Linked DNA regions of Homo sapiens: regions 1, 3 and 4 are each reported to be linked to region 2. Evidence: microRNA targets listed by miRTarBase, many of them from high-throughput screens and not tested one by one. Region 2 holds a microRNA gene; each other region holds the end of a gene's coding sequence.
What was found. Region 2 holds the annotated microRNA hsa-miR-181a-5p (AACAUUCAACGCUGUCGGUGAGU, at 3,843-3,865, opposite strand). A microRNA usually pairs through its seed, bases 2 to 8, with sites in the 3' UTR of a target mRNA and lowers its output. Matches are read on the target gene's strand: a 7mer-m8 pairs with bases 2 to 8, a 7mer-A1 pairs with bases 2 to 7 and ends in A, and an 8mer does both.

Region 1 (7,123 bases), not on the chromosome of region 2:
AGTCTTCATAATTACTTTAGAACACTTAAGACTTTTACCATGTTAAATAACCCTGTAGTTTAAAATATAGGCTTATGGGGGAAAAAATAGCAATTTTCAAAATTATATTTACTCTGAATGTAACTGTATAAAAATATGTGTATGGACAAAGACTGGAAAGAAAAAAATAGATGTGGTTAAGTAGTAGAATTCTAGTAGATATTTTTCTCTTAAGTCTGCCTTCTAGATGGGAAATTACATTATGAGTAATTAGCCAAAAACAGGTTTAAGTTCTCAAGGAGTTAAAGTTTTTGTTTCAGCAGGCTAATAAAAATACTGTCTGGTGCTGTATATTGACACAGTTCTTCTGCTAACTTTTGTCTGTGTATTTTTCAGTCAATAAGCAGATAAATGACAAAGAGCGAGTGGCAGCTGCAATGGAAAACCCCAACTTACGGGAAATTGTGGAACAGTGTGTCCTTGAACCTGACTGATAGCTGTTTTAAGAGCCACTGGCCTGTAATTGTTTGATATATTTGTTTAAACTCTTTGTATAATGTCAGAGACTCATGTTTAATACATAGGTGATTTGTACCTCAGAGTATTTTTTAAAGGATTCTTTCCAAGCGAGATTTAATTATAAGGTAGTACCTAATTTGTTCAATGTATAACATTCTCAGGATTTGTAACACTTAAATGATCAGACAGAATAATATTTTCTAGTTATTATGTGCAAGATGAGTTGCTATTTTTCTGATGCTCATTCTGATACAACTATTTTTCGTGTCAAATATCTACTGTGCCCAAATGTACTCAATTTAAATCATTACTCTGTAAAATAAATAAGCAGATGATTCTTATAATGACTCACTGTTTTTATTGAATTGTAAATTCCAGTGTAAATGTCAACTCCTAAAGGATATCTTCAAAGCTTTATTTTTGCTGATTATTTTGTAGAATCAGAGATCTGAGAACCAAAAGGAACCCTTAAGATTGGGCCTTCCTTCCTTCCAAGGAGAGTCCTGGACCCTTTCATAGATAAGGAACAAATGTGGAGAAGGCTAGATGGCATACACAATTTTGAAGATCAAGAAGTCCACCAAAGAAGTTTTGATTAAACCAACCTAAATGTATGGTCCGCACTTTATCTGTCCTTCATTTGGTTTGTTTTAGGGGTTAATGGTCATGTGAAGTATAGTAGCCTCCAACATGGCCCCCAAGATCCTCACTTCCTGGTATTCATGCCCTTGTATAGTTAACTTCCATATTGAATTGGAGCTGATGGGTGTGGCTAATAAAGAATGGCAGAGTGACAATGGGTGACTTCTGAGGCTAGATCATAAAAGGTATTGCTGTTTTCACCTTAGGCTCTTGGATTGCTTATTCTGTAGGAATCCAGCTGCTATGTCACGAGAACTCAAGCCACCCTGTGGAGAATTCCACACGGAGTGCAGCTGAGGCCTCCCAACAACAACCAGCAGCAATTTGCAAACCATGTGAGTGAACTCCTGATGCAGAACTGCCTAGCTCCCAAAGTCTGGACCCAGGCACTGTCTTGGGTGCCAAGGACACAAAGATACATCAGCCATTGTCTGTCCTCCTGGAGTTCATACTTATTAGCCTGGACCTTCAGCTTCTCTCTGCTCCAGGCAGTGAGTGATTCGGACTCAGTTTTATCTACTGCCTGAGCTCGTCCTGGCCAAGTAGAAACAGAAGCCGGGCAGCAGGTCCAAAGACAAAACCATGCCTTAGGGACTGTCTGGTGAGGACACTACTGACATGCAACTCCAAGTGGATCATTGCTACAGGAGTCACCTGAACTGCTGGCCCTGCTGCTCCTGGAAGCTAGATGTGACTTCTGTTGTCTCCGCTACTGCCAGAGTGATTTCTCATTTTTGTGTGACTCACTCCAGCTTCCTAGTCCTAGCTGAGATCTCTAGTCGGCTGATCTCAAGTCACATGTCCATGTCCTGGCTGCCAAGAAGGCGGGAGAAAAGAAAATCTGACCTTTGGTGTGGGGAGGTGGACTCTGTCCCCCCAGCAAGACTCACATGGTGGGAATTCTATAGTAGAGTGAGAGGGGTCAAAAAACTAACATCTACTGCATTAATTATATTAGAACATGAATTTAAACTTTATTAATCATAATGGTATCTACATAGAAGTGAAAAATAGAGGTACATATATAGTCAGAAGTAGTGTTATCTGGTCCATGTTTGGCAAGGGTTAGGAAACGTTTTTGGAAAAGGGCCACATAGGCAATATTTTAGGCTTTTCAAGCCATATGCTCTGTTGTAACTATTCAACTCTGCCCTTGTAGCACAAAAGCAGCTGATAGTCTGTAAACAAATAAGCATGATTGCACTCCAAGAAAACTTTATGGACACAAATTTGAATTTCATATAATTTTCATGTGTCATGAATTAATATTTTCCTTTTTAATTTTTTCAACCGTTTAAAAATATAAAAACCATCTTAGCTTGTGGGTTGTACAAAATTCCAGCATTGGGCTGGATTTGGCCTGTGTGCCATTAGCAAACTCCTGATTTACAAGAATGATTATCCTTTCTGAAAAGTCAGACCAATTGGAAAATCAGATAAAAGATGTGGAATGGGCCCTCTCCCTAGGGAGAAAAAGGCACTCACATGAAACTGCATGTGACTCCAGGACATTCACAGACTTGCTAAGGAGCCAGTGGACCCCGGGTTAATAACTCTGCTTTACAAGTAATGCTAGCTGAGCACTGGGCTCCCCCCTCCTTTAATAACCCCCCAGAGCCCTGAGGGTTCACAACTTTGGGAGTATAGGGGCAGAAGGTGTGATACCTTTCCTCACCCATCATAAAGGTCATGGCCAACACCCCCGTGACAAAAGACAGGGTAACAAGAGAAAAGCATAACAAATGTGGTCAATCCAAGTTTTATGTGACACAGCAGGCTTCAGATAGGAAGAATCCAAAGACCCAGGGAAAACTGTCTTATTTTTCTGCTTAGGTTTGACGAAGAGTGGACAATTGTGTAGAAATGTGATTGGACAAAAAGTGCGATCTAATGGTAATGGACTAAGTGGGGAAACCCAGCAAGGACTATCTCTTCAGATTCTTCTTGGCCTTTCTGTGTAGCATTCCTTCCTCCTGGGTATGGGGCAGTCTTATGACCTACTGTTAGATAAGGCAGGTCAGAGAATTTCTTTATGGCCAGCTCATGCACAGAAAGGCGGGGGAAAGTTAGAGTAATATTTCTAGGTTTTGTGGTTTGCTTTTTGTTGTTGTTACTGTTTTTGTTTTTGAGATGGTCTTGCTCTGTTGCCCAGGCTGGAGTGCAGTGGCACAATCATGGCTCACTGCAGCCTCAACCTCTCAGGCTCAAGTGATCCTCCCACCCCAACTTCCCAAGTAGCTGGGACCACAGGTGCATACCACCATGCCCAGCTAAATTTTTTTTTGTATTTTTTTGTAGAGATGGGACTTTGCCATGTTTCCCAGACTGGTATGGCTTGCTTTGAAAAGAGGTTCTGGTTTCTATTTCCTCCCTTGGGGAAGACAGATTCTGTTTTCTATGACTCCCTTTGGAGGAGGAAGGGGCAGGAGACAGCAGGGCAGGATATGGTCAGAGAGAGTCTTTGCTTTTGAGGCTGCTTCTGAGGCTTTCTATTCTTCTTTAATTCACAGCACACCAAGGAGCCATATTTTGGGTTATTGCTTTCTGAGCCCCAGTAGGAGCCACTACCTTCTTGTTTTTGCTTTTGAGACAGGGTCGCTCTCTGTCGCCCCTGCTGGAGTGAAAAGGCACCATCAGGGCTCACTGCAGCCTCAAACTACTGGGCTCAAGCAATTGTCCCACCTCAGCCTCCCAAGAAGCTGGGACTACAGATGAGAGCTACCACGCTCAACTAATTATTTATCCACTGCTTTCTTAGACCGTTACAAATAAGAAGCTTATGGCCGGGCGTGGTGGCTTAGGTTGGGTGCAGCGGCTCACGCCTGTAATCCAAGCACTCTGGGAGCCGAGGCGGGTGGATCACGAGGTCAGGAGTTCAAGACCAGCCTGGCCAAGATGGTGAAACCCCATCTCTACTAAAAATACAAAAATTAGCTGGACATGGTGTCACGTGCCTGTAATCCCAGCTACTCGGGAGGCTGAGGCAGAGAATTGCTTAAACCTGGGGGGCGGAGGTTGCAGTGAGCCAAGATTGCGCCACTGCACTCCAGCCTTGGCAACAGAGTGAGATGCTGTCTCAAAAAATAAAGAAAAAAATAAAAGAAAGGAAGAAAAAAAGGAAAAAAAAAAAGCAGCTTTCCCAGCTCCACCATGAAGCAACTGCTACCAAAACTGCAGATGTGTCCAGCAGGACACAATTAACTGTAGTTAGTGGGGGCCAGTTTACTAGGAAGGGGTAGGATTGCTATAAAAGTCTCATTGCACTCATATCCCAGGTGGTTTTCTGCATGTGTTAATACCATGGTAGAAAACAAGCCAGTGAATTGTTGGGGTTCAAACTCATTACTGATGCACCACTACTGTTAATACTCTTTTTTTTTTTTTTTCTGGGACATGGTCTCACTCTGTCACCGGGGCTGGAGTGCAGTGACACGATCATGGCTCTATCTCCCAGGCTCAAGCTATCCACCCGCCCCAGCCTCCCGGGTAGCTGGGACTACAGATGCACGCCACCAAAGCTAGCTAATTTTTAAATTTCTTGTAGAGATGAGGTCTCACTATATTGCCTAGGGGGTCTCAAACTCCTGGGCTCAAGCGATCCTCCCACTTTGGTCTCCCAAAGTGCTGGGATTAAAGGCATGAGTCGCTGTGCTCAGCCACATTATTTCTGATATCTTTTTGTATATATGAAATACAAGTAAAGATTTTTCCAAAAAACTTCATTGGATTTAGCCTGAACTGGTGGTTGTCCATGACTCAGGTTAGACTGCCTATAGGGCATGAGCGAACCCAGTTCTGATATGGACTTATTTGGGGCAGATGTACTGGATGTGGAGAGGATGTTGCTGTATGGGCTGTCAGGTTCTCTCCAAGTGCTGTTAGCACCATGCAGACCCTGGATCCTCTTCACAAAGGATGTGGTCAAGAGCACAGACACTGGTGCCAAACTGCCATCTTGTTCTAATCCAATACTCAGTCACTTAGTAGCTGTGTGACTTTGGGCAAGTTACCTAGCTTCTCTGTATTTTAGTTCCCTCGTTTGTAAAATGGGGATGATAAAATTACCTATTTCGTGGGGCCCTTATGAGGACTAAAAAAGGGAATGCTTGTAAAGTGCTGAGCACAACGCCTGGAACCTAGTAAATGCTTTATTAGGGTTTGTTAAAAATAGAGAAGGCCAGGTGCAGTGACTCACGCCTGTAATCCCAACATTTGGGAGGCCAAGGTGGGCGGATGGCTAGAGCTCAAGAGTTTGAGACCAGCCTAGGCGACATAGCGGGACCCTGTCTGTACAAAAAATCAAAAAATTAGCAGGGCGTGGTGGTGCACACCTGTAGTTCCAGCTACTTGGGGGGCTGAGATGGAAGGATCGCTTGAGGCCAGGATATTGAGGCTGCAGTGAACCCTGATTGCGCCACTGCACTCCCTCCTGGGTGGCAGAGCGAGACCCGCATCTTCCGGGGTAGGGGAGAATAGAGGAAAGGGCTGCTCGGTGCTAACTTGGAGAGTTTTTCCTCTGGGGTGGGTGCGATTATCTGGGAGAACACCAGATGGCAGCAAAGCATTATTTCTTAGTGACAGAGCATACCCACTTGGCATCAGCTGCCCTGGGTTTTCCCAAAGGCCCTGAGGGCACACTCACTGCCCCTCTAACCGGGCTGCACTAAGTGGTACCAGACCACCATGGACTTATTGCAGCCTGTGCCTTTGTTCTGACTGGAGTGATTATCACTGAAGACTTTTTTTTTTTTGAGAGGGAGTCTTGCTCTGTCACCCAGGCTGGAGTGCAGTGATGTGATCTCAGCTCACTGCAACCTTCACCTCCCAGGTTCAACCGATTCTCCTGCCTCAGCCTCCTGAGTAGCTGGGATCACAGGTTCATGCCACCACGTCCAGCTAATTTTTTGTATTTTTAGCAGAGACGGGGTTTCACTGTGTTAGCCAGGATGGCCTCCATCTCCTGACCTAGTGATCTGCCTGCCTCGGCCTCTCAAAGTGCTGGGATTACAGGTGTGAGCCTCGGCACATGGCCCATCACTGAAGACTTTCTTAGATATGGAACTCTTTGCCAAAGATTATGAATGATTTTGAGGCTTTGATACATATTGTTGAATTGGCCTCTGGAGAAATTGTACCAATTGACACCCAACCAAGAGTGGGGTAGGTGTTCCTGTTCTACAGTAATATTGGGTATTATTATTTTAAAAAATATTTGCCCAAGGTGGAGGATTTTGAAAAGGTTTTTCATTAGCATCTATTTGTAAGGTTAAACATGTAGAATTTTTTTTTTTTGAGATAAGAGTCTTTCTCTGTCATCCAGGCTGGAGTGCGGTGGTGCTTTCATACTCACTGCAGCCTCAAACTCCTAGGCTCAAGCAATCCTCCAGCCTTAGCCTCCCGAAGCGCTGGGATAACAGGTGTGAGCCACTGTGCCTGGCCTCTACTGGAATGTTAATGTTTTAAAAAGCTAATTATACAATACAAATATTAGCATTTTCTGTCACATATACTGCAAATATATTTCCTATTTTCTTGTTGTGTAAACATGTTTGACCCTATGTCATGAATGATATGACGATCACAGCATCATTTTTTATCATGAAAAATGTGCAACTTAATGACTAACAACATGTTAGTCATCTGCAGTTTTTTGTTTGTTTAAGATACCAGGATCTTGCTCTGTTGCCCAGGCTGGGGTGCAGTGGCAAGATAATAGCTCACTGTAGCCTCTAACTCTTGGGCTCAAGCAATCCTCCTGTCTCAGCCTCCTGAATAGCTGGGACTACAGGTGCAAGCCACCACACCCAGCTAATTTTTGTGTGTTTGTTTTTTGTAGAGATCAGGTCTTGCTATGTTGCCCAGGCTGGTCTTGAACTCCTGGGCTCAAGTGGTTCTCCCATTTCAGCCTCCCAAGTAGCTGAGATTTTTATATTTTTATTCATTTCTTTCTTTTTTTTTTTTGAGACGGAGTCTTGCTCTGTCG
Region 2 (7,123 bases):
TTTCCTTTCATTCCATTCCTGTTGACTCAGTTCTACCCCTGCTAACTTGTGCAAGAAAGTTCTCTTTTTTCTCTTTTCTTCCCCTCACTTCATCTGCTTAGTGACTCTTCCCAGTCTTGCTTTCATTGTCTCCTTGCTGAGTTTAGCATTTAAAACGGCTCTCTGTTGGACTAATTGACTTTGCGCCTTGCTCACAAGTCCTTCTGTAATATGTCCTTTTACCTTTTCAGTGCCATTCCTTATGACTCCCTAATACAGTCTCTGGACTATTCTCTTCCTGTCCCCTATACATGCCATGTAATTTTTCTGTTACAGGTATTTATTTTGAGGCCTATCTGCAGAAAACACCCTTTAACTTACATAATTGTCTCCCTTCTTGTAGTACTTAGTTTTATCCAAGAGAAAACTTGGATTTGGTTTAATGAAATATATAATTGTTTCATTGGCATATTTAAAGACTATGTAATAGTCTGTAAATAAATAGCATGCTTGTTCAAGTGTACATTTTTCAAAGTACGTGTCAGACATTCTTTTCTAATGTTTTCAGAAATTTTGGAAATAATTGGTTAAAAATAAATGCCTAGAATGCACAGCATCTTGAAAAACAAGACTGCGTGGAGTACCTTCTGTGTGTCTACCAGTCTCACAAAAAACTCTTCTATAAAGACCCCCTCGGGCCGGGCGCGGTGACTCATGCCTATAATCCCAGCAATTTGGGCGGCCGAGGCGGGCGGATCACTTGAGGTCAGGAGTCTGAGACCAGCCTGGCCAACATGGCTCTACTAAAAACACATTTCTTCTAAAAACACAAAAATTGACTGGGTGTGGTGGCGGGCCAGCTACTTGAGAGGCTGAGGCACGAGAATCACTTGAACCCAGGAAGCAGAGGTTGCAGTGAGCCGAGATCGCATCACTGTACTCCAGCCTGGGAAACAGAGCAAGACTGTCTCAAAAAAACAAACAAACGAAAGAAAAACACACACAAAAAAACCTTTTGGTAATTTCTTTGGGTAGGTTTTAGTTTTTTAGATAGCGTAAATCCAAATCCATTCATTTCCATAAAACATCAGACACAATTTGATGTATATTTGGCCACCAAACATGGTGCAAAATTTTATGTAGTCTGGAGATACTTAAAAGCAGCACAAATGTGACTCTACCTGTCTGCACTCAGCAGAATAGTGGCGATTTCAGGTGGTGACACAAAAGGTTGGGCAATAGTTGAAAAGTGGATGACATGAAATGTGGTGGTGGGATGGGGGCAGGAAGCCGATGTTAAGCTAGTGAACTTTATTTACTTTGCTTCCAGCTTCCAGTGACCCAAAATCACCTCGTCTAGAGTAGGGCTCAGGAATTTGCCATTTTAAAAGCAACTCTAGATGATTCTGGTGTACAAGAAGTTTGGGAAACACTGGCTTGAACCTGATATTTTCTCTGAACTCTCATAGTTTTCTTTAGATTTTTCTTTTGGCTTTGATTTCTCTTTCTGGTTCTTGTCTCATTACCCCATCACTTCTCCTTCCTAATTTGACAGGAAAGCCTTGTCAAATTAAGGCTTGCTTAATTGTCAAGGCTAATTTGACAAGACTCTTCTCTTACTGTCTTATTTGACTTTTGCTATGAGAATCTGCTTCTTCTTAGACTTAAGTGTATGATAAATTATTCATGACCAAGGGCCTTGTTTTTCTTTCTTTAACATGGGATTTAGTGGCTTATCTCATGTTACAGGATTTAGAGAGTTGATACTACATTTAAATTTTTTGTTAAGAAAAATGTACATCTTCTATCTCACTTAGGTGTTTTTCCTGTTTGAGGGACATGGTTTGCAAAGGTTAGAATGAATGAGCCTCATAGTTTTTGTCAAAAGAGAATATTGATGTACATCTGAATAATAACCAGAACATTCATATTAAGTCATACTATATAGCCATTTAAAAGAATGACGAGTACATAAAAGACTGTTGTGGAAGTCTATGATATATAGCTGAATAACAAAATAGATTATAGAACAATAGGTAAAAATGAGCTTATTTTTGTCTAAGCCACTCTCCCCCCAAAACATGCAAAATTACAGCTATTTATCTGTGTATGTATGGATAAAGGTCTTCAAGGATATAAAATAAATTCTAGTTATGATATTTATTATCTTAATAAGTTTATTATAATTATACATGTTTTCCTCCGAGGAAATGGATTGCAGATGATGATTGAAGGGATTTTCAATTTTTACTTTGTATATTTTTGTATTTGAATTTCTAAATAATAAGCATATGATTCTGTTTAGAAATTCTGAATGTACTGATTTTTAAAATGTGATGTGATATCCAGATATGTATTTAATTCTTCCTATAAAATATCATTTCCTTAAATCTAGACTATTGAAAAAGGAGAAAAGTACTAGGAATTTAGAGAACTTACTCCATGTTAGAACCAAGGAGAACAAGAAAAGCTTTAGCTAGTGTTTTGGAAATAGTAGCAGCTCCCACTCACAGCAGTAGCTGCTGCACTCAGGCGACTCTCTGCACATGCTTTTGCTTCCTTTGGGTTGTTTGGTCCGCAGTTTGCATTCATTGATCAGTGAGTTGATTCAGACTCAAACCCACCGACAGCAATGAATGTTGAGTGCAGCCATCAGTGTTTTCAGTTGGTGGGGTTGCCTTTGCCCTCCCTGGCTGACTCCTGGCTCTTCTTTTCCATCTCAGTTCTTTGAAGTCTGTGTGTCTGGCTTCTCCCTTAGTAACCAGCCATCTGCATGATTGAGGGCCCACACAGGTGTCCATAACATTGACATTGGAGCTGGGAGGTTATTGCAGATGAGGAAGCTGTGGTTCAGAGAAGGAAGGAGTGCTTGGAGAACCTCACAGGTAGCACTGCGCCACACAGGCAGTGCTTGCATATTAGTACCTGTAAACCACAGCTGAGGGACCTGCTTTTCCTCTTTGTTTTGAACTGAGAAGTATGAGTGCTTTTTTGAGGTAAATTAGCAGATTATGTTGGAGTTTAATAATAACAGCTTACATATATTGAGCATTTGCTGTGGGCTAGTAATGGTACAAAGCACCTTATATATTATCTCATTGAGTCTCAAAACTCCATGATAGGTACTCTTAGCCTCTGTTTTATATGTGAGAAAACTGAGACACTTGCTTAGGGGGTCAAATAACTAGTTAAGGGCTTGAGCCAAGATTCATCCCAGATCTGACTGACTCCAGGGCTAAGTTTTTGCTTGAATTTAGCAAACATTTAAATAAGCATATGTGGGGATATGTGGGCACTAGTAAGGCAATAGCTCATGCTCTAACTGGGATATCAAAAATTAACCATATTAACTATAATTCAAAGTGAAATGTGATAAGAACTGTCACAATTGGATAATTTTGTGCTATTTTTGCTTATTAAATCCTCCCCTTGCCCCTAATTAAAAATTTTGAGAGGATGTGGGAGAAATGGGAGTAATTATTTAACTGGATTTTATTCCAAAACAAAATACGTATTTTTAATAAATTTTTACTTGCTACGTCCTGTTTCTCACCAGAATGGTGCATATCTAGGAGACATGTAGGTACATTAGATATCATCATGGACTGCTCCTTACCTTGTTGAAATGAAACACTTTTTTTGTAAAAACAAACAAATAATAATAAAACACACAACAGAAAGCAAGGAACAGTGAGCAGTAGGAATAAAATTCACTGGACCACATTTGGGGGATTGCAGGACCATTTCTGGTGAACTCATGTGACATGTGAAGGTACAGCTTGCTCTTTTGCTTCAGGAAATGTAGTGTCGTCTGTAAGGACCCCAAGGTACAGTCAACGGTCAGTGGTTTTTTCAAATCCCAAACTCACCGACAGCGTTGAATGTTCCTTGGAGTCCTCTGAAGGCTGGCCTGATAGCCCTTCTTCATTCTCCCATCCACATCCCAAGAACCAGTGAGCAGTGAGACCACCGCTGATGGATGCTCTTACATTCCTCTCTGGGTTTCAAGTCGAGAGTATTTAAATTATAAAATCAATTTGTGTGCAGCAGAGAACTAATGAACTGTGGGATAGACTGTGCAGTAATTTGTACAAGCAGACTCAAATGAATGTCTGAGAAAATGTCTTTGAATGGTATTATTTTGTGATTCTAAAAATGTAAAATACCTGATTTTGCAGTAGTATTTTAATTGTTAACAAGGGTAAGAGATTAACATATATTGGGGATCTGCTATATACTAGGATTTGTATATTTTATCTCATTAAATTCTCAACAACCCACATTTTCCTGATGAAAAAACTTGAAGTGATTTGCCTAAAGTTACATTGCCAGGAGCCAAGGTTATAAGCCAGAATTTGAATACTGGACTTCATGTTTCCAGTGCTCACTCATCATACTGCTTCTGTTGTCTACTACAGAACTTACTGTTGATATCTAGGAGTAGACCCATCACTGCAGAGCCAAAGTCAAACATGTAAATTTCTTCTACTTGTTTGCCTATAATAATAGCAGGTAGGTCTATAGGTGAGGTCATAGGGGAAGATGAAAAACCTCGACCTCCATGATTGATGATCTCCTTTGCTGAGATCCTGCATTACTAAGTTACCACAGAGGTGTTAGTGATAGTCCACAAGCTATTTTCCATATTGAAAAAGCAAAAAATAAACCAAAAACCCACCACCTAATGTAAAGCTTGCATTTCTTCTTAGTTGAGAACACAGAGTGTAACTAAAATGTCAGATGTCATTTGTTCTGGCTGAAACGATACCAGTACATTATAGGACATAGTGGTTATTTTTGATTCTGTTGAATGTCTGTGATGAAAAATTTGAAAAATGAATTAATAATATGAATCTTCAGAATATGTGATTTACAATGGGACAGATCTAGGAATACTTAATAGGAAAAGGGCTTACAGAACTGCCTGCTGAATTGAAGTTAATCTCTAAATGGGGATAGTTATTACTATTTGCTTTAGGTTTAAATACTAAAGGCTGACTGGTCTCAAATTCATTTTTAAAGCAGCCAAATGGTACACGTTAAAAGAAAAAATATCAACCACTGAGATTTAGGTTTGAATGTAAACTGTTTACCTTCTATATCAGTTTAATTCACCCTCTGTCAAAACTCTGCATTAGCCAGCTTTGTTGAGTTTTCAGTGTTATGACAGTAAATTGTATACACACACAAAAAATCAGGCAACTGTAACTGTGTAATATGTTTAAAACTTTTTAATGGGTTTATTTTAAAAAGTCTTCCTCTTGGTCCAATAATATAAAGCGATGTCAAGCCTTATACTATTTGGATAAATATTTAGACTTTAAAAAAAATACTGATTTTGACTTCACCAAACCTTTAGATGCTTACAAAATATTATTCCTTAAATTCATAGCATTCTAAAAAGAATGCTTTTCACAGACTTGAAAAACTACAGAAAGGTAGGTTTCTGGAATGACATGGGGTGTTGCCCACTGTATTTGAAATAATTGTGTATCATGGCATAATGGCCTTCATCATCCTCATTCCTTTAAGTTCTTTAGTTTTTATCATCAAGCAAGTTTGAGCACACATTTGGGTTTTTTAAGTGAGTTTGGCTAAGGGGTTTATATACTCGGTGCAAGGATAAAGTCTAAGGGTTAAAAAAAGTTAAGGGTTAAATTAGCTAAGAGTGACCAGGCAGGGTGGCACATGTAATCCCAGCACTTTCGGAGGCTGAGGAGGGAGGATTCCTTAAGCCCAAGAGTTTGAGGTTACAGTGAGTTGTGATCCACCACTGCACTCCAGCCTGGGTGACAGAGTGAGAATCTGTCTCTAAAAAAAAAAATTATAGGCTGACATTTAACAAGCCAATCCAACTATTTAACTCTTGATTTAGATTGGTTTTGAGTTTGTTAGAACTCACCATGCCATTCCTTAATTTCACATACCTCCTTTCTTTTCCAGAGAAACCACGAAATATTGGTGGTTTCCAATATTCCAGAGAAACCATGAAATATTGAAACCCACATGTCTCCAACATGGGGATGTAAATGTTTTCATAGTCTTCCTGGGACTTCTTGATATACTTGGAAGAAATAAGCATAAACTCAATAAAACAATGTATCTGGATGATTAGTAGCATGTTTGCTTCAGCAGCACATAACTAAAATTGAGTGATTAGTAGCTAATAGAAGAGGAGTCATCGTCTCAGGTGCCGTCTGCCTAGGTGTTTCCCAAGCACCATGCAGGAAGCATCACTATAAGTGTTTGGGGGTAATGCTGCTAGCCGTGAGGATAAATTCTTAAGTTATGAAGATAACAACAGCATGTCAGTGTGAATTCATGTTTCTTTTTGCCAAACTGTGCTAGTTTTCTGATTCATCCTTTTACTGATTCGGCAGTAGAATCCTAGGGATTGTTTTTCCTGTATATAAAACCCTTGCCATCCTGGAGCCCACTATCTGACTAGGGAGCTACACGTAAATATAACTGATGACAAAGAGGATGCCTGGTGGATTGGTGTGAACTATATTAAGGGAGAACAGAGAAAAGAGGGGTTAATTCTGCCTACAAGTGCCAGGAAAGGTATATCTAAGTAGGTTAACCTGGTTTGAGCTTTAAAAGGTTAGTTGAATTTTTACTAGACAGAGAAAGGGGGCTAATTCCAATGGAAAACCATGTACAGGAAATCTTAGAGGCAGAAATGTTTAGGTAATGGTGAGTAGTGAGATTAATGTCTCAGAGTGTCAGTTAACTCATCTTTAAAATGTGAGACAAATAGCACTTGCCCTTCCTGCACACACAGCCATGAAAATCCAATAAGGTTATGTATCTGAAAGAGCATGCAAATGTAATTGCTTCTCTTGTCTCCCATTGCTTTTGTTTCATATGTGCGAGAATAGAATAAATGAAATACCTTATTATAATAAACTTTTCCAAATTGGATGATTCTTTGGCCTTCTTGCTTTTTTTCCCTTTAAAATGACCATAGTTAAAAAATTTCATGTATTAAATGTTTGGAGAAGCAGTATTTACAGCATAGTAAAGAGCAGATTTTGGAGCCAGAATCGTGACTTTGAATTTTACTAGCTATGTGATCTTTGACAAATTACTTAACCTCTCCATTTCTTTGCTTCCTTATCTATAAAATGGAGATTTATATGTT
Region 3 (7,123 bases), not on the chromosome of region 2:
ATGTCTTTTATTGAAAACTCCTGTGGATGCATAATCATTTTCCCAAGACTCAGGGCAGATTTCACCTCCTCTGGAACCCCATTAACTTTCTCAAGTATAATTAACAATTTCTTCTTCTGGAGTCCCACAATACTTTACATATACTTTAGTTATTGCATGTATTAAGTTGGTTTCTAGTTGCTTGAGTGTATGTCCAACTAGACTGTGAGCACACTGAGGGAAGGAATTTGGCTTGGAAAGTAAAATTGGCTCCCAGTGTTTTATCTAAACAAATAGGCTCAATTTACAACAGGATTCCATCCTCTTACGCTGTGTATTCCCATCTCTTCCATGCTGCATCCCACCACCCTTCAATGTTATTACAATAAAATTAAGATCAAATAATTTATTCAGCTAATTTTTCTTGTTTTGGACAAAATAGACATCCTAATACATTTATAGCCAAAGTTTAATCTAGACACTAAAAGGAGCATATTTTGCCTTTAGGCTCTGTATTTCCCATCCCGTTCCCAGTCAAGATAATCACAACTGTATTCTTTAGGAAATTCTTCACAAAGAACCAAACATATGTTACTATGAAACTAGATTCTTGGTATCCTGGTGAAAAAACCTGCCCTCTTGCTTGTCTGTAAATACTGGCCTTGGCTGGGTGTGGTAGCTCATGTCTATGATTCCAACACTTTGGGAGGCCAAGGTGGGAGGATCTCTTGAGCTTCAGTGTTTGAGACCAGCCTGGGCAACATAGTGAGATCCCATTTCTATAAAATTTTTTTTAAAAAGCTAGCCTGGCATGGGAGCTTGTGCCTGTAGTTCCAGCTACTTGGGAGGCTAAGATGGGAGGATTGATTGAGCACAGGAGGTCGAGGCTGCAGTGACTGCATTTCAGCCTGGGTGACAGAGGGAAATCCTGTCTCAAAAAAATTAAACAAATAAATAAATAAGTAAACACTTGCCTTGCCCTCAGACTTGAACAAACAACTCGTGATTTTTCTGGGGAGGTTCAGCCTGCCTATGCAGTACTCCTGTACTCTACCAGCAGTGTGGCATCAAGAGCATGTGTTGACCCTGTTAATGATTTGTAATGTTTTGTCTTTCAGAACCAGAGGCAGGAGAAGTGTCCCCTCCAGTCGGTGCGGGTGTCAACAGCAACAGCTGGACCTTTAAATACGGACCAGGCAACCCCAAACAATCCGGTCCCGGTGAGTTGCCCGACAAATTCATTATCCCAGGATCTCCTGCAATCATCTCCATCCGGCAGGAGCCTACTAACAGCCAAATTGACAAAAGTGACTTCATAACCTTCGGCAAAAAGGAGGAGACCAAGAAAAAGAAGAAAAAGAAGAAGGGTAACAAGACCCAGGAGAAAAAAGAGAAAGGGAACAGCACGACTGACAACAGTGACCAGTGAGGTCCTCAAATGGAAACAAGCCACTTAGCCAGTTTTTGTAATAATGGCAAATCTCTCCCATGTAGCAATTCCCTGCTCCTTTTTCCTATCTACATGAGCCCTCTTAGAGACCTCAGAAATCTGCAGAAAGTTCCCTGTGTCTGTCTAGAACGCATTTAACAGGTTTTGTCGTAAAAGCTTTACTAAGTCTGGTGTTAACTCTTTCTCTCCACTCTGGCTTGTTTTCAGAACCTAAAAAGCAGACCCAAGTTTCCTTTCTCCTCCGCCGCAAAGGAGAGGCTTCCCAGCCCCGCCAGTGAGAGGTTGGACTCTCTGCCCTGTGCTCCGGGGATCCTGTCTTGATGACACTTGCAGGGCAGGCTGAAAAGTTTTGAGATTGAGCAGCTTGGGAGTTTGTGGCCACTGGGTATGTGTGGCTACCGCGGGTATGCGAGTGCCAGATATTGGCTGAGACGAGCCAGCTTAGACTAATTGGTACAAGGAAGGCAAGAAAACAAAGACAAATAAACAGCGGAAGTTATCAGTATGGAGGGGAAGTGTAAACTTAAAGGGACCAGACTTTCTAAATCTTACAACTCAAGAGGTGGCAGCCACCCTCTAGGAGACAAAACTACCCCCACTGACAAGGCTTTAGGAGACCCTAAAGTCTGTTGGCTGTGACGTCATTATACCTAAAATCTGCATCATACCTGCAAGCCAACAGTTCAGTGTTTTAACAGAGAACCACCCTGGGAAACAGAAGCAGATCTGATGTGTTTCCTATACATGTCCTGTGCTCACTTTATTAAAAATTCTTTTGCACACAATGTTTATGAAAAGGCCAGATCCTTTTCCAATACTTATGCAAAAGCAAAAGAAAACCCCGACACCTCACCTTTCGCTGTTTGTTGTTTCATAGATTTATTTAAAAAAAGAGAAAGTCTATAGCTATAAATCTTTAAAGAGAAATATGAATACAATTCCCCTAAACTCTCCTCAAAAGAGAATTCAGTCTACAGCCATTTAAATGATCATTGCTGCTACAGAAGTGCTTTAAGAGAATTGCCTGAAACATCTGTATTATATCGGCCACCTGCCAATCACAGCTTTACTCTTTCAGGTCACTCTGGGGCTGCCTCTTGCATGTATTACTAAATAAAATGATCTCTCTTTCTCTCTCTCTCTCTCTTTTCTAAGAAACAATTATGTGCACTTTGATACACAACCTTCTCTAACCAACTATATATCAAGACCCAAAAATTGAAGAAAAATATTGTTTTCTCATACAGTGAGCAGATTTTTCAATCTACTAATTCTGTGACTTGTCTTGGTGTGCTAGCCTACACCTTCTCTTTGGTTTAGTTTTCCTTTTCTATAACACTCTGAATTGCTAATCTTACTAACACCTATGATGTTACCTGAAATCAATCTCCCATATGTATGCTGTATGCTATGCTAAGACTCCTGAAATATACTTACTCTGTGCTTGTGTATGTGAATGTTAATGCAACTATTACCTAGAGTGAACTTTAAGCTTTATTGTTGAATGTAATTCCATTATATTTCCTTTTGTACACCTGTGAAAAAGTGGAGTAGTGTTTTTTTAACCATTGTTAATCAGCTTTTGTGTATGAAAGACACAGTAAAATTTCTTTCTTAAATCAAGATACTGGTGATTCAAGGAATTTTATTTATGGTCCAGCCAAGAGCCATCTCGTGCCAAGACTTCTGCTGGCAAGGGAATGGATAAAGCTGTTTTGTTCTAGTAACAATTTTGGAATGAATACTGACAATATTCCATGAGGGTGTGCAAGCACAAATTTTACCAATCTGACCTCTTTGAAGTTGCAGAATGCTTTGAAATTCTAATGGTATCTGAAATATCAGCTCATAGAAAGTAACAAAATTTGCTGTCACCTTAAATAAGACATTTTAATTTTGTTATAATGTACAATTTAGAAGTTTGATTAATTATATTATCTATTTAGGCATTAATATAAAAGAGGTAGGAGTCTGTTATTTAAAAAAAGCATTAAATTTAAAAAAAAACTGTCTTGTCTACTTTTAGCTTCATTCTCCCATATTTTGAAGGGTGTGTAACTTCAGCTCTGCAGGATTGCATGGGGTAAAACTTGTTACCAACACATGTGAACCATTGCTACATTGTAGGTTGTGATCATTTTGCCCCACTGAAGCCCATGTATCTGACCTTACGTGCCTTTTGAACTAGGAGAATCGGGCTAATTTATTAATGATGATAATTATAATGTATCTGTACAGCACTTTTTACATTTGCGAAGTGCTTTCCAATCCATGTTAGTTACTAGTTATTACAGCTGTAAGGATAAAACACGTCATGTGGATTCATTTTGAATTGGTGCTATTGGTATTTCCTCTGTTATTGCTAATAAATGAAAATGGTGGTATGAAAGAAATGGTGGTCATTTCTAAGAATAGGAGGAAATAGAACACTGATAAGCAATTAATACTGAAGAAGATTGCTGCAGTATGAAACTCACTGTAACACTCTCTTATCACGTTAGCTTTTATGTCCATTACTAAGGCAAAAGCCCCAGTGGAATCAAGATTCAAACTTCATATCATTAGAATGGGCAGCCAGGAGGTTGCTGCGTCACTTTGTAGTTACACTATTTCAGTTTTCTCTAATAAGAATTGCAACAAACCCATTTTTATCACAAGAGCCCTTCTAGGCATCTTTTTCATTACTTGTTTAGCCCTTGCACCTCTCTACAATTGGAAAGCCAAGTGACACCCCAAAGAAATGAACTTTTAGGTCAGGGATAGTGGCTCTTGCCTGTAATCTCAGAACTTTGGAAGGCCAAGGCCAGAGGATGGCTTGAGGCCAGGAGTTCAAGATCAGCCTGGGCAGCATAGCGAGATCCCATCTGTACAAAAAGAAATAACTTTTATTGAGTACAGGGTGTATGCCAGCCACACTACTGCATAGGTTCAGCTGTGACAAATAGATTGTTTTGTCCTTTTGTAGTTAAATTTGTATAAATATAAGCTTTAGATGCTGTAGGTTCTCAGTTAGGAGCAATTTTGCCCTCCTGGGGACATTTGGCAACGTCTGAAGTCATTGTTGCTTTTCATTACTTGAAGTGGAGGGTGCTATTGGCATCTACTGGGTAGGGGGCAACGATGCTGTGAAACACCTGGCAATGCACAGGACAGCCCCCTATAACAAAGGATCTTACAGCCCAACATGTCAATGTCTCAAATCAAGATTGAGAAACCTTGAGATAGAGTGACCATATAATTTGTGTAGTCCACTTTTGAAATGGAACAGGAGACACCATTCGTTATTACTTCAGGATTCAAGATGTAAACTGGGACTGTCCCAGGCTAACTGGGATTTATAGGGACTCTATAAATAAACTGGTATAGCTGTGCCACTAACTAGATGGGGAATTTGAGGCAAACCACTACTTCTCTCAGTTTTTCAGTCATCTCTAAACTGGTCATAATTATAATACAGACCTTATAGATTTGTGAGGTAATCTTAAAAGGTTTTAGCAGGTCTGGCACACCATAGTACTCAATAAATATTATTATTTATTAATCCTTTTCTTCCATTTCCTTACCCCCTTTTCAGAGATTTAGCTATTAGACCCAGGGAACTTTTCCTACTGACTAAAATGTGAATGAGGGATGGCCAAAAAAATCAACATAGTCTTGGCAATAAAAATATTTTATTTACTCCTCCGCTCTTTTGCTCACCCCAGGAGGAAAAGAAATAAAGTCAGTTTCATAACTCCTTACCTATTTCTATCATAATAATAATCAAATCCCTAAGTAGTCAAGTGGCCAGTCTGTTTGCAGCTATTTCACCTCAATTATTGGTGATCTGAAAGCCAGAAACCAAAGGGTTTGAAGTACAACAGCTTGAGAGAGAAAGAGAAGAGTCACCTCCAACAACTTCTTTCGGCAGATGAGCAAAACAGAAATGCCAAATTACCCACAGACTTGCCTGGGATTTCACAGGCAATAAAGGACAAGACAGGTGCATCTCTCTCAAGGGTCAGGCTACTTGATATAAGTCTCACATATACAGAGTGCAGGATTCATTCTTTAGAAATATTGCAATTGATCTAATTTTAAAGGATGAGATTCTCCAATGAGTGTCTAGAGCCTTGGCTTTGAATTTTAGGCTCCTAGGTAAGATTGTAAGTGCCAGGATCTCATGTTAATGTATTTTACGTTTAAATTATAAACATTATGTTTGTTATAAACCCCAATCTAAAGTACAAATGTAACTGACCAAACACTAATGCAATTTTACTGTTAAATCTAGATTTAAAAACCATGCAAACATTAAGAGATACAATAAAACAAGTAAACAAACAAAACTACAGATACAGTTCCTCAAGACTTTCAGTCCCTGGAGCTTTTCCAGGAAATGGAAATGGAAATAAGTTGGCCACTCTTTGACCTATTTCATCATATTTTCATGTGCTTCCTTTCCTTGTAGAAAAAGCTGATTATGTTATTTCCCTCAAAATTACCTTGACTGTTGGCTGGCAGGACACAACTTGCAACCTGAGAAATTTCTTCTGGCTTTATGCACACACACACACACACGCGCACACACACACGCGTGCGCACAGTCATACGTGCACACACGCGTGCACACACATGCACACGCACACATGCTGACACACATGCACATGCACAGAGGTTCTTACTGTAACTAGGAGGGGGCTTTAGCAAATGAGCATGGTGCTGTCCTCCTTTTGAAACTGTGCCTAAGAGTGGTACATAGCAACCTTTTTGTTATAATCAGTCAGGTAAAATGTTTGCTGGGTCCCATTTTCTCTTGGGGTTGATCCATTGGGAAATGCCTGCTGACGTATGAAATCTTAAAAGTTTTTTGCCTAATAAAGTCTATCACCTTGTCTTTGAACTTAAGCTCCTCTGAGCTGGACACTAGTAAATTTACTTTCATAATATGAGTCTAGTTTGCATAAAGAAATAAGAAAGAGTAGGTAGTGAAAAACATAAAGTCCAGCATTTTGTTAGGTTACACAATTGTCGGGTGACTTGGGGATCATCAATCCACAAAGAACATGAGCAAGTCAGACAACCACTCAGCCAGTAGCTGGTCTTAGAGCAGAGCTAAAACAATTGGCACCCGAAGCATAAATATATGGGAGACTGACACAACAGTTCTCGTTTTAGAGTTTGCTTTCACTAGACTTACTTTATTTAGTTTTATGTGAAATTGAATTTTTATTATAAAAGGTAATACGTGTTCTTTAAAATAAATCAAATAAACCAGAGATATATAAAGAAAAATTATTAATCTCACCATCTTCTTTCAATTCTCTCTTACATGGGTATCCAATTTTAACAATTTCAAATGTGTTTCTCTGCATTTTTCTCTATACACACACATTTATATCACATACACATAGTTTTAAAAATAATTGTTTTCCTTTTTTTTCTTTGAGACAGGATCTCACTCTGTTGCCTAGGCTAGAGTGCAGTGGTGCGATCTCAGCTCACTGCAACCTCTGCCTCCCGGGTTCAAGCAATTCTCCTGCCTCAGCCTCCCAAGTAGCTGGGACTACAGGCGTGTGCCACCAGGCCCAGATAATTTCTTTTGTATTTTTAGTAGAGACAGGGTTTCACCATGTTGGCCAGGCTGGTCTCGAACTCCTGACCTCAGGTGATCTGCCCGCCTCGGCCTCCCAAAGTGCTAGGATTACAGGCATG
Region 4 (7,123 bases), not on the chromosome of region 2:
CAAACTGCAGCTGGAATACCCAGTACAGTTCTGCTTACTACACTTCAAGAAAGATCTGAAAGCGGAAAAAGAACCAAAGAAGGGCAGTTCAAGCGACCAAAGGGTGGGTGGAAGGTGCTGCAGTATGAATACTGTACGAATATTTTGACTCTGGTCTGAAAAGATAAAAGAATGTTATCGAAAACTACATGGAATAATTGAAGTCCCTTCAAGTTTGAAAGTAAGCATTTTAGGACAAATAAAAGGAAATTCAACTTTGTACTTGTGGAAACTAATCCCTAAATATGAATAGGTTTATATTGATTCATGGGTAACAGGTCCATAATAAATTATTGGAAACTAGGATGTCTGAATATCAAGGAAGACAGCCATAGTCTCTTACAGTGCCTCTGTTGGTCTGTCTCAAACTGAATTGGGTGGGAAAAGGTATGGTCCAATATAAAAGTTCCATTTTTGCCATTATTGGCAAATCTTGCCTTTGTTTATTTTGGTGCCAGTGTTTTCTGCTTAATCATTTGCTTTGTTGGCATCTGTGTTTATTTACTTGTACACCACATGCAGTTTACATCTGTCTTAACTACTCCTTCCCAGGTAAATTCCAATTATATTTGACATCCAGCTAAGAGGGCCCATCTCTTCTCACCTCTTTCCTAGTCAGTATATTCAGCAAATATTTATTGAGCCCTTACTGTGGGCAAATCATTGTACTGGATAATTGAGAAAAATAGATAATTCCCTTATTCAGTAAATGTCTACTGAGCACAATCTAGTGAATCATTACAGTATGGCCTCATTGTTTTGTTTGAGGTGTGTTATTCATAACAATATTTTACACCATTCGTATCAATGTAATTATAGAACACAATATACGATCAAGGATAAGTAATTGTGTGGTTATCTGCCATTTAAAAGTATCCAGTATTTGATCACATTATTATAAATAATGAAAAAATGATTTAATCTGTAATAAACTGGTTTATTGTGCAGTGACTGTAATATACTAGAGTTATAATAAATTGTTTACTCTGCCTCACCAAACACATGCTAGGATATAACCCCCAAAATAAGTATTTAACTTTGCATTAGGTATAAAGGAGACTGGGTGCTATAATTAGATTATTTTGAGGCAGACAGAGAGCTGTTATCCTAACTGATTTAGTATGTTCTGTAATTGAGAAAATGTTCACCAAATTATACTTTTTAGTGATTTACATGTACATTTTATAGGGGACATGTTCTGTGTATAGCGAATAAATAACTTTTATAGTATCACAAAATGTTTTGGATTCCTTAGTTTCTTATTAGGATATGATGTTTCTTTACCTATACATTGATTTCATCACATTTGATTTTTGTCATCTTTTTTGCCACATACTTAAAATTTTCCATATAAAATTAACTAAAAATCTGGAAGTGGAATTTAAGCTTTTAATTTGTAGCAATTTTGAAAATATAGCAGAGGTATATTTTCAAGGGAGGTGTGAAATGGAGGTATTATTGTTTGTATTTTATTTTAGAAATTTTGTTTGAACTTGCCCAAGATCACACAGCAAGTGTCAGATCCTAGGTTACAGCCCATAATTTTTCACTTGTTTCATCTTTTGTTACCATGTTTGTTGTTTAATCCAATGGGGAAGTGTTTTTATAGCTTTATTTTCATGGAGATAGTAACATTGATATAATGGGATCTAGAATTTACTTAGAGTCAAAGTGACTAGATTTAATTACAAAAAGTATTTTGTTGTATACCGTTATACACTCATTAACATAGGGGTTCTTATGGACAGAGGTTCTATGTATTTTTAAAAGAATATGTAGAGGCTATAGACTTTTTTGCCCTCTACCTCCCTTCTCCATTTCCTTTTGAAGTTAAGACATTTAAGGGGGAGAATTAAGGTGCATATTGAGTTGGGGTTTTGTTTAAAAAAAATTAGGTAAATACATATATAACTACAATAACAACAGTTGGTAGTTCTCTAAAATATTTAATTATGGTAAATCAGAAAAGGCCCTTTAATTTTTGCATCTGTTGAATGAATTGCTTTAGGATCTCTTCTGTGGTTGTTTCTCTCTATACTGAATGCTGTCAATATTATTGAGCACTTACTGTGCCGAACCATGTGCTTTTCAAATATTTCTATTTAATCCTAAAAACACTCCTGGGAAATGGGTATTATTCCCATTTTACAGATGAGAAAATTGTCCTTTGTAGAATACCCATCATGTGATAGCTTCTTGCATATTATGCTATTCATTTCTCACAACCTTACAAGGTAAATGGATAATGTTCCTGGATGAGAGATTAAACGTACTCGAAGATCTTATGGTTGTGTGGCTCAGAGACTCTAAGCATGGCTTTCCAAATCTCATTCTCTTGTAGAGATTTTCCATTGTATTGCATTTTGACCATGTTCCTGTTTACAAAACCTAAGATTATATTCTGAAGTATCTGTGACTTGAGTGATAGCTCAGGAATAATCTGAGGGCATTCTATTAGGAAGGAGGACTAGCAAAGCCTATAGTTAGCCTATCCTAGGCATGAACTATTCTCATTTTAGATAGGATGACTTGATAAATAGGATGAAGTGAGCAACCTGTTTGTCTTCGGTTATTGCTATCTACAAGACATTCTGCTAGTCACTGTGGAAAAGTTTCCTTCTCTTGGGTTTTTTCCTCTTCCCCTTCCTCTTAACAGTGTTGGTTATCTTTATTATGTTTCTGTGTATTTGTAACAGCTGTTTCACCCTTGTATTGCATAATGGGGATTTTTCTTGGAATAAAAAGTGAGGCATGTAAATTCATTGAGAACTAACCGTAGTTTGTAAAGAAGTAAAAGGCCTTTGTATCTAGTTTTTTGCAGATCACATTTCTTTGAATGCTGGAAAGTGAAATAAACTGGTCTAGGAGCCAAAAATAAATCTTGGGTTTTTTTAAGATTTTGCTCTTAGATTTGTAACCACCTGGGTACAACTTTTTCCTAATTTGTGTAAGAGGTTTTAGAGATGCACTCTGTCCCTCTTGCTTTACAAATTGCCTACAAGAATGCAACCAAAATACTAGAAACTGAAACTTACACAAAACCTTTCAGGTTTTTTCCTGTGTTGTAGTTCTAGGGAAGAGGATAGTTTATTAGTATTTATTTTAAGCTTAAGGATAGGTTTTGGACCTGGATTCCATCATAGTATAACTGCCATCGAAAAGAAGACAAATTGAAATTACAGCATTTACCTAAGGTTCACAGTATGGCTGACTTCAGCAGCCTTACATGGTAAGTTCTCTGTACCAGCTATTTTTGGTTCTCGCAATTGCATCGACTTGGGAAATTCCTATCACCATTCTCTATATAGGCTAACCAAAACTTTTATCAGTACCTTTCCTAAAGTATGAAGTTAGGTAATCTTCCACTCCCACTTCCATTTACTCATTTTGCTTGAGTCAAACCAAAAATCTAGTGTATTACTAGATTAGTCACTAAAAATCTAGTGTATTCAATATATACACTAGATTCAATATATAGCTTAAAAACTAACAGACACCTAGGCTGAGATTTGTCCAATACATGAAGTTCAATTCTGCAATCCTTGGCATTGTTCACAGAAATTACCCTGGAAACAAAATGAACACCCAAATGCTGGTTCTGCCTTAACTCCAAATTGTTAACTAGTTTGCATGAAAATAATACAGCTTTGCCATGGGACTAGTTGTAGCATTTTAAGGATTACTCAAACTAGTTTTAAGATGCCCTATCATTTGGAATCTGTATCAGAAAGGTGTGGTTGTGATGCTTTTCTTCTGAGGGGTCCCCTTATATACTTTTCATTTGTCAACATACTTAAAACACAAGGGTTCTTGTCAACTTGATAAATTTGCTTATAATTTTTTTTCTATGAACCTAGATCATGGAATTAACTTTCAAAAGCTTTGCGATGTTTTCCATGTGTGGCCTTTTTTTTGCTTTTTAATTAACACTACTGGGAGAGAGAAATCCTAAGTAGTTGCTTAACTGCATAGCTGTCAAATCCTAGTATCTTCTGTATCAGTCAGCAAACTAGTTGCCCCTTTTCAAGCCAACAGTCCTATCACATTTTAGTTGTGACCTTTTTTATATATACGTATATATATATGATCAGAAATGTAGTGGTTCATAGTTCTGGAGTCTGAGAAATCCAAGAGTTTGGAATATTGTGAGTGTATTATGAGCTTCAAGTCAGTGACAAGTAAAACACATTTTTAAAAAGAATATTAAGCAATCAAAACCATTTTTAAAATAAAACCAAGCCAATGGGGAAAAATTTTATTTAATTTTATGCTTCACATTCATATCATGTACATTAAGTACTACATAAACTTGTCTTTAGGCTATCAATATTTAACTTGGGCAGTACTTCATCTTGATTTATTTGGAGAAATACAGCTTAGGCATCTGCTTACCTGCTTAGGCATCAAGAGGTGCCAAATTAGAAAATAGGGCATTAACAATCAAAATTTTTAAGCTGACCCACATACTTGCTACTGGTTTCGCTTATGTTTAAGCATTTAAAGTTGGCAAAACATGTTATCAATGTATTATGCAAGAGTTTACATCTTTTGCATAAGTGGTCCATTGGGTTGCACCTACCCCTTGACCAAACAAAAACAAAACATCACTGGCACCATACTCGAAACTACCTGTATCCTAGGTTATAAGATTGTGAAAGCCAACAATCTATAAGGTTGGAGGGACTCTAGTTAATCTTTGGGCTTAGAGGAGGAAAAAAAGATAGTCCCATACTGCATTTCACATCTCTTAAAAATAGTTTTAGCAGCTTAAACCTTTTTAGTTATAAAACTTATTACACTAGGGTTTACTTTGAAATATAGTTTACAACCAAATCAAGTATAACATACATACACTGGCACTTTAGCACAAGGGCAAACTTTAAAAACAAGTTATTTTGGACCTTTAAAATTAGGCCATATTATAAAAAACAGTCCACGGTCTTACATTCAGCAAATTCATACTAAAATACTCCATTTTTGTAAGATAAAGGCCAAGAAAACTTTACATATGCTACAAGTTTATTACAGATATTTACATGGCTCTTTCTCCCCTAGGTACTTAAAATTTTCACATTATCCAACTCCCCAAAGCAAGCTTTGCAGGAATGATGAGGCCAGAGCACTATTAGAATAGCTTGTGCAGTGCTGTAATACAAAAATGTATTTTGAAAGCTATTGAGTGACCATTAAATACTGTTTCTATAAAAAATGGTTTTGGTGTATTTGTTGACAGACACTTAATCCACTACATTTAATAAACAGGGCCATTGGGGTGTACTATGTCTCATTCTAATGAGCTCCAAATGCCCTTTCCACCCACTGTACAATTCACTAAAATGCAATTATTACGAAAAATTCACATTTTCTTTCAGCAGTGCATCAGGTTAGCATATTACTGGTTTGGGTGTTTCTAATATACTAAACCTTCAGATGTTTACCTAATTCTGAATCCTTGTGTTAGCTAGAAGCTTATAATCCGATTCACCAACTTTCAACAATCTACTGGTCCATGAATGATAAATTACTGTCTTCCCCTAACAATAGAAAAAGCTGATTCCTTTACCACTCCCCAAATCTAAACTTGGTTTCCACTTAAAAGTTACTCAGTTGAGAACACTTAATATCAAGTACAATCATTAGTTTAAGTTGCACTGATACTACCATTATATCACAGTGCACACAACACGAGATGGTCTATTTTTTTTACATTAATTAGTTCTACACAAATAGATTCCCTAGCGAATTTGTTTCAGACCAATTGACAACTATCCGTGAACATAACTAAATTTAAACATTTGTCTTATTTTATACCTGTACTTTAAGTAAGGTTTTAAGTTGAAATGTCATTATTTCCTTATCTGAAGGATTAAAGGAAACAGGGACCCAGTGGCTTGGTGGTTTGGGAAGAACACTTGGTGATGGCGGCTCACTAAATTTGGCACCAGCATAGTTCTGATTAGCTTGAGATTTAAAAAGTAACCTGGGACCTGATAAGCTAGAATTCCAACTTTGATTATTTGGAAAATTTTTGTTCTTCCCCCCATTTTGCATGGCCTGCCAGGCAGCTGCTGATGAGTTATAACCATGTCCTCTTTCTTTTTTCTTATGAACAATCTTCATCTGGGAATTCTGTTCCTTGGTCTTCTGTCTGTTAAGCTGTTGTTGGTTCTTACTAACATTTCTAGATTGAGGGGCTGGAATGTTATACCTCTCTCCACCACCCATCTTCAGCTTCTTTGTCACCTACAAGTGAATGGAAACAAATATTGAGTAAAATTCCATTAAGAAAAGTTCAAAATCTTTAAGAAGCTTCTATGGCTCCAACTTATAACTCCAGATATTTTGGACAAGACTCAATAACAGGCTATTCAGCTGCTTTAAACTCAAAAAAGCAAGCCGTTCAGACTTCAATATATGCACAACCTTTATTGTTATACCTTCCCTAAGAAAAATGAGCTTACCCACAAATCTACATAATCTATTTTAAAATAAAAACAATTGGTTTAGGATGGTTCCATCATAAAATGTTTGCCCATTATGATGATTACCTTTCAGTCTGCTTTTCAGATTGCAGGATCTCCACTACCTGTCCTCTTCCTTGCTGCCAAGCCCAAGATAACAAGTGTTGCTTTCTGACAGATCCCTTCCTTTGTCTCAATACAGAAGTTTTCATGGGCCGATCTGCTGAGTTCAGCCTAGGAGCTGAGGCCAACATCTGAGTCTCCTCAGCACACAAGTTTGAGAGAAGTCCTAGCTAGAAAAGTAAAGATTACTTCATTATTTCAAAAACACGTTGAGAAAGTGATCATTTAGATTTACTACGAAAATCGTTGACTGTAAAGAAGGCTACTTCCTGAACTAAAAGGTAGAAAATTTCTCGTAAGATGGCTTTCTTTGACCTTATAACCACGACCATTTAAAAAAACTCTTCACCCTTGAGATCCAGTCACTCCTGGGGAATTTTTGTAAGTGTCTCCAAGTCCCGCAATAAGTTTTATCTTTATCTTTTTCCTGGGAAAGACCTTCAGATTCTCTCGCGTATAAAATCAAGGAAGTGTTAAATGTTGAGTCATATCAAAAAATT

Region 1: the mRNA of CIAO2A is a reported target of hsa-miR-181a-5p. The part of its 3' UTR that is shown has no 7-base or 8-base seed match.
Region 3: miRTarBase lists PCDHA7 as a target of hsa-miR-181a-5p. Seed matches in the 3' UTR shown: 7mer-m8 at 2,883-2,889 and 8mer at 2,931-2,938.
Region 4: miRTarBase lists PNRC2 as a target of hsa-miR-181a-5p. Seed matches in the 3' UTR shown: 8mer at 4,982-4,989 and 7mer-m8 at 4,314-4,320.

What each region holds. Positions count from the first base shown.
Region 1 is chr15:64,066,281-64,073,403 of GRCh38, reverse strand. CIAO2A (cytosolic iron-sulfur assembly component 2A) reads left to right here. Exons shown (of 5, transcript NM_032231.7): 5 at 376-839. The coding sequence ends at 473. Among named protein-coding and RNA genes, the nearest start is that of DAPK2, 23 kb to the right of the region's middle.
Region 2 is chr9:124,689,222-124,696,344 of GRCh38, reverse strand. It overlaps MIR181A2 (microRNA 181a-2), which reads right to left and starts at 3,903; the gene lies at 3,794-3,903. The region is part of intron 2 of NR6A1 (nuclear receptor subfamily 6 group A member 1); the gene reads left to right. The region is part of intron 1 of MIR181A2HG (MIR181A2 host gene); the gene reads right to left. MIR181B2 (microRNA 181b-2) reads right to left here and starts at 2,635; the gene lies at 2,547-2,635. RefSeq lists an enhancer at 778-1,323.
Region 3 is chr5:141,008,530-141,015,652 of GRCh38, forward strand. PCDHA7 (protocadherin alpha 7) reads left to right here. Exons shown (of 4, transcript NM_018910.3): 4 at 1,098-3,818. The coding sequence ends at 1,408. PCDHA1 (protocadherin alpha 1) reads left to right here. Exons shown (of 4, transcript NM_018900.4): 4 at 1,098-3,818. The coding sequence ends at 1,408. PCDHA2 (protocadherin alpha 2) reads left to right here. Exons shown (of 4, transcript NM_018905.3): 4 at 1,098-3,818. The coding sequence ends at 1,408. PCDHA3 (protocadherin alpha 3) reads left to right here. Exons shown (of 4, transcript NM_018906.3): 4 at 1,098-3,818. The coding sequence ends at 1,408. It also overlaps PCDHA4, PCDHA5, PCDHA6, PCDHA8, PCDHA9 and PCDHA10, and 7 more genes. Among named protein-coding and RNA genes, the nearest start is that of PCDHB1, 39 kb to the right of the region's middle.
Region 4 is chr1:23,960,599-23,967,721 of GRCh38, reverse strand. PNRC2 (proline rich nuclear receptor coactivator 2) reads right to left here. Exons shown (of 3, transcript NM_017761.4): 2 at 6,588-6,793; 3 at 4,260-6,282. The coding sequence starts at 6,264. The coding sequence ends at 5,845. SRSF10 (serine and arginine rich splicing factor 10) reads left to right here. Exons shown (of 6, transcript NM_054016.4): 6 at 1-3,375. Among named protein-coding and RNA genes, the nearest start is that of PNRC2, 4.3 kb to the right of the region's middle.